Linked DNA regions of Homo sapiens: all the other regions are linked to region 2. Evidence: fine-mapped expression QTL. A gene starts in region 2. Each other region holds a variant in brackets. All regions are shown on one strand. Distances are from middle to middle.

Region 1 (2,763 bases), 38 kb before region 2:
AAAGCCACCTGGGCCTAACAACGGGCTGATCATGAAGATGCGTGTCCTTGGGCTGCCGTGTCCTGCTGTGTGTGTTTTCTTTCTATTTCCTTGCTTAAACAATGTCTTAGGTGTAGCCCACACTAAGCAATATGAGGAAACGCACAACCACCAGCCACGCTGATAATGAATGCCTGTTCCAGAAACACCCAGTGGTCTGGTCATAAAATAATGAGGGTCAAAGGTCCTGCTCAGGGGTGTGTAGTAGAGGGGGCAACACCACAGTCGGAAGGAGTGGTTGGGGAGCTGTTGGACAAACAGGAAGACCATTAAAGACACTCCAAAGTTTATAAGCAGGATGTTCCCACCCAGGCAATCTGGCCCTGATGGTAGCACGGACCTGGCTGACGTTCACTCCTCCCATCTCTGAGGGCTGAAGGCCGGGCAGTGAGCGGAGCCAGTGTCCACCCGGCTGGGAGGCTGAGGGCCCTGCCACATCCCATGTCTGTGAGAGCATCTGGAATAGGATCTGCGCACAGCTGACAACTGTTGCCAGCGATGACAGGTCCTTGAGTGTTTGTGATGCCATTCTCTCTACTCATGCAGATGTTTGAAAATGTCCATAATAAAAGTTAAAAGAAAATATTTCTGCTAGACCTGGCCCTGCACAGAGCCACTCTCAGCAAGAAGCCAGGCGACTGCCTTGGGTGCAAGAGCTGCTTTCCCTGAAGCCCCCACCCCTCTCATCCCCAGGTAGGAGGGGAAGGAAGTGGGGGTGGCGGGTGAAGAGGGGACTGGAGCACCCTGCTGCTTTTCTGTCAGACCCGAGTCCCTGTAAGGAAACCTGTTTCTGCCTGGGCTCTCTTAACCCCAGTCTGTTATTCTGGCCAGCTTTGCTCAGGCTAAAAGGAACCCAAAGGCCTGCAGGCCGCCGAGAGCAGCAGGTTCTCCAGGAGCTCCAGGCCAGGGCTGGGCCATCCTCACAGGGGATGTGGCTTCCAATCCCTGCACCCCAGCAGTGGTGCTGGCAGTCAGCTTGCCCCTAGCCTCCCAGGACACTCTCAAGTTTAGCCTAGGACAATATCAAATCCAGTTTTAACATTGTGAGTCAAAGTCACTATTTACTGTCAAGAGTCCAGTGTATTAATATCTTGTGATAACAAAAGCTGAGGAAAAATCAAAGGCCGTGTTCCTGGCCTAATATGTGACGTGCTACAAATGCCATCGAGTGCCATTGAGCACCCA[T/C]GCAGGCTGGATGCACCAACTGAGGTATGAAGTAATTTCCTGAACTGGACACATCCGAGAGGAAGAAATATTTAGAAAATGTTTCGGAATAAGCTAGAATAGTCAAGTGACTCATATTTCTCTGAAACCAATTAGTCATCAAAGTCACTGTGCTCAAATTATCTGGAAAAAAAAGTGGATATACCCCTGAACAGAAAGAAATAAATAAAAAATCATAAAAAGTACATAAAATTGCAAAATTGAATAAAGTATGTCACAAAAGGAGAAATAAACTAAGTGAGTGAAACTAATCCTGAAATTGGCTTAATTGTCCCACAGAAGTGATATTTATAGGTTTTTTGAATAAACATGGAAACTGACTCTCCTAGTCTTAAAACCTGAAACTTAACATCCATCTCATCTGAGTTCTTCCCTCAGGAAACCAACCCAGGAAAGGGACCCACCAGATCCCTGCATCCAGCCAGGCCCCTCATTCCTCAGATTGCTTCCTCACCCCTCTCTAATTTTGTTTTCTCGTCTTCCCTGCTATATAAACCCCCAAGTTTTAGTCAGATGGGGAGATATATTTGAGACTTTATCTCCCTTCTCCTCATCTGCAGCACCTGATAAAGCTTTCTTCCCTGGCAATCCTCGCAGTCTTCATGATGATTATGCTCTGTACGTAAGCAGCAGCAGCAGGATGTCAGGCAAACCCCTGGCATTTAGGTAACAATTCCACATGATCTTAACATAAGAATTGCAAAAGAATTGGCGTTGCATTGTTTCAACATTGATGCCAGGCACACACCCGCCTCCTGCCCCGCGCCCCCGCCCCCCCACTCCATTTAAATCCGTCTCTTTAGAAATTAAAAAAATTTTTTTAAATTTAATTTTAAAAATCCGTTTCTCAGGTCTACCAAATGTGTAGCCTAAGTTGAAAACTCAAAAATTCCTTCTACTTAAAGGAATCCTGGCAATTACGTTTCAGGCAACACTTTAGAATTTTCATTTTAAAAATTAAAAACAGAGATACTCTCTGTGTTAAGGACGAGGAGGAAAACCCCACACCTGTGGCCATGCAGACACCTCCTGTAACCTAAGTATTCCCTTCATTGGGCTCTGGGAGGCCCCACTTACAGTCTTGGTTGTTCTCGAAGTGTGGCCCCCAGATCTCAGCCTCACCCCAGACCTCCTAAAGCAGAAAGTCAGGGGTGGGGCCCAGTGAAGGAGTTAAAAATATACCATCCTGGCCAGGCGCCGTGGCTCATGCCTGTAATCCCAGCACTTTGGAAGGCCGAGGTGGGCAGATCACGAGGTCAGGAGATGGAGACCATCCTGGCTAACACGGTGAAACCCTGTCTCTACCAAAAATACAAAAAATTAGCTGGGCGTGGTGGCGGACGCCTGTAGTCCCAGCTACTCAGGAGGCTGAGGCAGGAGAATGGCGTGAACCCAGGAGGCAGAGCTTGCAGTGAGCCAAGATCATGCCACTGCACTCCAGCCTGGGTGACAGAGTGAGACTCCGTCTCAAAAAAAAAAAAAAAAAAATATATATATATA
Region 2 (2,763 bases):
TTTTCCGATGTTAGCTCTAAATAAATCTCATTGTTTTCTGCAGAGACACCCTCCATTTGAAATTCGTTGAAGAAGTTCTCCTAAGGGAAAAAAAATGAGGGATGAGGGAGGGTATATGTGATCTTTCCAGTGACAATCTGCAGAGTGTGCAGGCCTCTCAGAAGCTTTTGCTCACCTGTTCCAGCTCACACCACATGCTCACTCCTCCATTAGCCAGCTTGTCACAAAGGATGAAGTTAAGCTTATCAGGGCTGATGCGGAGGGTGCAGGTTTTGGCAAGCTTGGCTATCATGTTACTGATTCCTAAAGCAGGGGTTAAAATAAGGAATTACTAAAATGCACATTATGTATCCTAGAGACCAACTTATTTTGCAGAATTTCTTGTTCATCAACTTCTCGGTGGAAAAATAACCACTTAACGTTGGTATCACACTGGAAAGTACTTTAATACCCCTGATGTCACGCAATTCTCCCAACAAACTAGGGGAGATGTACAGCACACATCATCAGTGTTCAAATAAGAAAACAGGCACCTACCAGTCATTCATTCATTCAACATGGATTTATTGACTACTAGGTACTGCAATACACAGTTAAATGCAAGGTTAGGCACTGTCAGGGTGGAGGGACGAATGGGGCCTTGAAGGTATGTCAATGCCTGATAAAGCCGTCTATGGGAGCAGTGGCCGCTTTTTTTTAAAGCCACGTGATCGGAATCAAGTTTCAGAAACGTCCCTTGAAAGCCGCCTTCATCCCCACAAGTGCCCTCCGACCCGCCCCGCGCCCTCCCGGCCCCACCCTCCCGCGGCCTACACCAGCACCCCCATCCCGGCCCCATCCTCCCGCGGCCCCTTCCGGCGCCCATCCCCGTTCTGATCCTCCTGCGCGGTCCCCACCGCGCGCTCACTGCTTCCTTCCGTTCCTCCCTCGCTCCTCTCCGGCCTCCCTGCTCACGTGTGAAGTGGTTCAGACAGGCCCCGTCCACGATCTTGGCCCGAAACTTCATGGCCGCGGATGGCGCAGCCGCGGCGGGCCTCTGTGGGTAACAGAAAAGCGTCGCGCCCTGAGTGTCCCCGCCCGGAAACACGGCAGCGCGAACAGTGGTTCCGCCCGGCTCGGGCTACGCGACTCTTACCAGGGTTATCTCCGGGCCACGCCCCGGAGGAGGTGGGGCTAGGGGGTCACGCCCTAGAGGAGGTGGGGTCACGGGTCAAGGATCACAGGTCACGCCCCGGGGGAGGTGGGGGTCCCAGTCTCCGGGTATGCCTCCGCGCTGCCGGGTAATGGTGGGATCTACTTTTAGTGAGGCGGAGGCTTCAAGCCCCAGATTCGGGGAGGTTGTTCTGAGAATTCACGTTTTGAAAGAATTTTGTGACACCTATTTCAAGTGTTATTTTAAAATATCCAAATAAAATTAATCGTTTATAAAGGTTAAACAATATTATCTTAAATATACCTAAGGTAGAGCAGCTTTAAACCCTCCAGCCTCAGATGACGGTACTGGTACTTTGGTATTGAAGCATCTTGGTGGATTAAGGTTCTGAAAATTGTTTCAAATGACTTCTAAAAAAATTGAACATATTACTGGCTAGTTGGTAAAGTCGGGAAGCTTAAAGAACACTGACGTTAAGTGATAATTCTGCAGTTTGCCTCAAGACGAACTTTATTACATCCGATAAAATTCTTATTAGCATAAATAATGTCATTAGGATTTTTTTTAAAGGAAAAATTTTAAAGGGGGAAATGAAGCAACAATTGTATCTAATTTGGTTTTTCAAAGACTAAAGATTATCTGTGTTAACAATTGTTATTTTTAATGTCCTTTGCAAATAGACTAGAACCTTGTCTTTAACTTGACACATAGAATCAAGATAATGATAATGCAGATGATGATGATGATGATTTTGAGACGGAGTCTGGCTCTGTCGCCCTGGCTGGAGTGCAATGGCGTGATCTTGGCCCACTGCAACCTCCACCTCCCGGGTTCGAGGGATTCTCCTGCCTCAGCTTCCCAAGTAGTTGGGATTACAGGCACAAGCTACCATGCCCGGCTAATTTTTGTATTATTAGTAGAGACGGGGTTTCGCCATGTTGGCCAGGCTGGTCTCGAACTCCTGACCTCAGGTGATCTGCCCACCTCGGCCTCCCAAAGTGCTGGGATTATAGGCGTGAGCCACCGCGCCAGGCCCAGATAATTTTCAAAGACACATGCACACATATGTTTATTGTGGCACTATTCACAATAGCAAAGACTTGGAACCATCCCAAATGTCCATCAATAATAGACTGGATAAGGAAAATGTGGCACATATACACCATGGAATACTATGCAGCCATAAAAAAGGATGAGTTCATGTCCTTTGCAGGGACATGGATGAAGCTGGAAACCATCATTCTCAGCAAAATATCACAAGGACAGAAAACCAAACACCGCATGTTCTCACTCATAAGTGGGAGTTGAACAATGAGAACACATGGACACAGGGAGGGGAATATCACACACTGGGGCCTGTTGGGGGGTGGAGGCCTGGGGGAGGGATAGCGTTAGGAGAAATACCTAATGTAAATGATGAGTTGATGGGTGCAGCACACCAACATGGCACATGCATACCTATGTAACAAATCTGCACGTTGTGCACATGTACCCTAGAACTTAAAGTGTAATAATAATAAAAAGGTGCAAAATACAAAAATTGCAGTTTTTGCCTATTTTAAGACTATAACATGAAGCAAAATTCTAATCTTCATTGTCATATGCGAGTG
Region 3 (2,763 bases), 23 kb before region 2:
ATATACCTTCCTGATCTTTTTCTATCATACTGTATCTATCAACATCTAACCTGCTTTTTTAACTATAAGTCATACATTTTGCCATATCAGTACACTTTTTTCTGTAACATTATTTTTAGAGCATATCAAACCATAGTTTATTTAACCAATCCCCAATTAATTCATAATTAGAATATTTCGTGTTTTTCCAGTATAACAGTTCTATAATCTTTGATTATAACCTTTGTGTAAATTCCTATAAGTATTGAGTCAAAGGAGACACACATCTTTTCAGGCATTACATATAAAATAAATACTAAACTAGACTCCAGGAAAGTGGTATCAATTCACATTCCCAATAGCACTGTCCCAATGGGGCTAATTTATCTCCTTTTTAATCTCAGCGTATTTCCAGTTATAACATACCATTTTTACCTCTTGATTCAACAATTGTACTTAGAAGAAGCTCTAAAAATCCAAAACTGAAGCTTCCTTTTAGACCCTCCCTATTACAATCCGTATGAAAGTACAGAATTCGAGAGTGACATCAGCCAAACGGAGAAGTGAAGCTTACTGGCTTCTCTCCCTACCACATAATTTCAACTAGCAAATACCCAGTGGCAAGATTATTGCCCTGAATATCCCAGAAATTGGGAGTGAAGCTGTGACAACTCACTGGACCACAGAGCCAAGAAAAACCATGAACAGAGGGTAAAGAGAATGGTTCTGTTTGATCATAACACCTCTCCCGCAAGCCCACATAGCACCGCACTTGGAGAATTTCTCTGGAATCAGTTTCTACAGTGGGAAAAGAGAGCGGGAGGTGGGCATTCACCTTCCGCACCATTCTGAGACTCTTCACAGGGGCACACTATGGTCCTTTCCCCCTGGAAGCACTGCAGGTGCCAGCAGGGTTAGCCTGCTAGGTGTAAATTAGAAACAAAGAATGGGGGTGGGGCTCACAGCAGTCAACAAACAAATCACAGAGTGGACTGCAGGGAACCTGGGCTTAGGGCACCATTTGGCACTACACGGGCTGTAGCGTTCACGGGCTTAAAGACCAAAAAAGACAGTATGCTTACAATTTCTGGACAGACCTACTATACAAGGACAATCACAGACAAAGCCAGATTGCAAAGACTGTTTATAAATACCTACATATTCAATGCACAGATATCAATGTATAACTACAAAGATGAAGAACAGTCAGGGAAACATGATGTCACCAAACAGACAAAGTGCCAGTGACTGACTCTAAAGAGGCAGAGATATATGACATTCCTGAGATAATTCAAAATAGCTGTCTAAAGGTATAAAACTCCCTGGTAAAAATAACTCAGGAACTGATAACCAAATGATGATGATGATGATGATCAACCCAGAGGACTGGTTGAATTCGTTGCTCAAACCAGAGAAAAACACTGTCCTACTAAATGATACTATTTTAAATAAA[T/C]TGATTGGTCATTACTGTCAAGCAATTGAAGTAATTTGTCCAGATACATATAAAGATGAAGGTTTTGCTCAAATTCAAGTGAGATTCAACAGCTGAATTAAAGCTATTCAAGAGCCAGATGATGTATAAGTGGCTATAGCAAACTGCAAGACATTTGCTTTTGTGCATATATCTTCTGCACAGTTTGAAATGTCTCAAGGTAATTTCAAAAAAAGTAAACACCTTCTTCATAAAGCTGTAAAATGTGGAGCAGTACCACTAGAAATGCTGCAAATTGCCACGCAGAATTGAAACCTCCAACAAAGTAGCTGCTTTCAGCGAAGGAAAAGAGTTCATCAACATTGACAATATTAACTACCCAAGAATCATTCTCTAGTTCATTGAACATTTACAGAATAGGAACATGCTGTAATTAGGCAATTAGGCAAGAGAAAGAAAAGGCATCTAAATCGGAAAGGAGGAAGTTAACTGTCTCTGTTTACAGATGACACGATCATAAGTAGAGAAAATCCTAAAGACTCCACCAAAAAAACTGTTCGAACTAAAAAACATTCAGTAAAGTTTCAGGATACAAAATCTACAAACAAAAACTAGTATTATTTCTTTTTTTTGAGACAAGATCTCACTCTGTTGCCCACGCTGAAGTGCAGTGTTGCAATCACAGCTCACTGCAGCCTCAACTCCCTGGGCTCAACCAATCCTCCCACCTCAGCCTCCCAAGTAGTTGGGACCACCACACCTGGCTAACTTTTGTATTTTTTGTAGAGAAAGGGTTTTGCCATGTTGCTCAGGCTGGTGGCAAACTCGCGAGCTCAAGCAACTCACCTGCCTTGGCCTCCCAAAGTGCTGGGATTACAGCCATAAACCAGTATCATTTCTATACATTAATGGTGAACTATATGAAAAAGAAATCAAGAAAATCCCATTTACAATACAATTAAAAAAAAATATATATATATATATCTAGAAATAAACTTAACCATGGTGAAAAATCTCTAGGATGAAAACTATAAAACACTGATGAAAGAAACTGAAGACACAAATAAATGGAAAGTTATCCTGTGTTCATGGATTGAAAGAATTATTTCTTAAATGTTCATACCGTCCAAAGCAATCTGCAGATTCAGTGCAATTCCTATCAAAATACCAATGACATTCTTCACAGATAGAAAAAAAAATCCTAAAATTCGTATGTAACCACAAAAGACCTTGAATAGCCAAAGCAATCTTGAGCAAAAAGAACAAAGCTGGAGGCATCATAATACCTGACTTCAAAATATGCCATAAAACTAAAGTTATAAAAACAGCATGGTACTGGTATAAAAACAGAT

Direction of the effects. Positions count from the first base shown, and alleles are read on the strand shown. Sizes are in standard deviations (SD) of each study's normalised expression. Not every link is listed here.
For the expression in lung of the gene that starts at base 1,102 in region 2, T is the low allele of the variant in region 1 and C is the other (small effect, 0.24 SD a copy in GTEx).

Evidence for each region.
Region 1: its variant is fine-mapped to the expression of HUS1 in lung (GTEx, PIP above 0.99).
Region 3: its variant is fine-mapped to the expression of HUS1 in whole blood (INTERVAL, PIP 0.98).

Annotation. Positions count from the first base shown.
Region 1 is chr7:47,940,414-47,943,176 of GRCh38, forward strand. All of the region lies in intron 2 of PKD1L1 (polycystin 1 like 1, transient receptor potential channel interacting), which reads right to left. Among named protein-coding and RNA genes, the nearest start is that of PKD1L1, 6.7 kb to the right of the region's middle. RefSeq lists enhancers at 776-1,399, 792-1,991 and a silencer at 1,779-2,073. The variant T/C (reference allele first, on the strand shown) is at 1,225.
Region 2 is chr7:47,978,514-47,981,276 of GRCh38, forward strand. HUS1 (HUS1 checkpoint clamp component) reads right to left here and starts at 1,102. Exons shown (of 8, transcript NM_004507.4): 1 at 955-1,102; 2 at 176-303; 3 at 1-80. The coding sequence starts at 1,006. RefSeq lists silencers at 623-672, 753-812 and an enhancer at 883-1,172.
Region 3 is chr7:47,955,484-47,958,246 of GRCh38, forward strand. It overlaps a transcript of PKD1L1 not described here. Among named protein-coding and RNA genes, the nearest start is that of PKD1L1, 8.4 kb to the left of the region's middle. The variant T/C (reference allele first, on the strand shown) is at 1,433.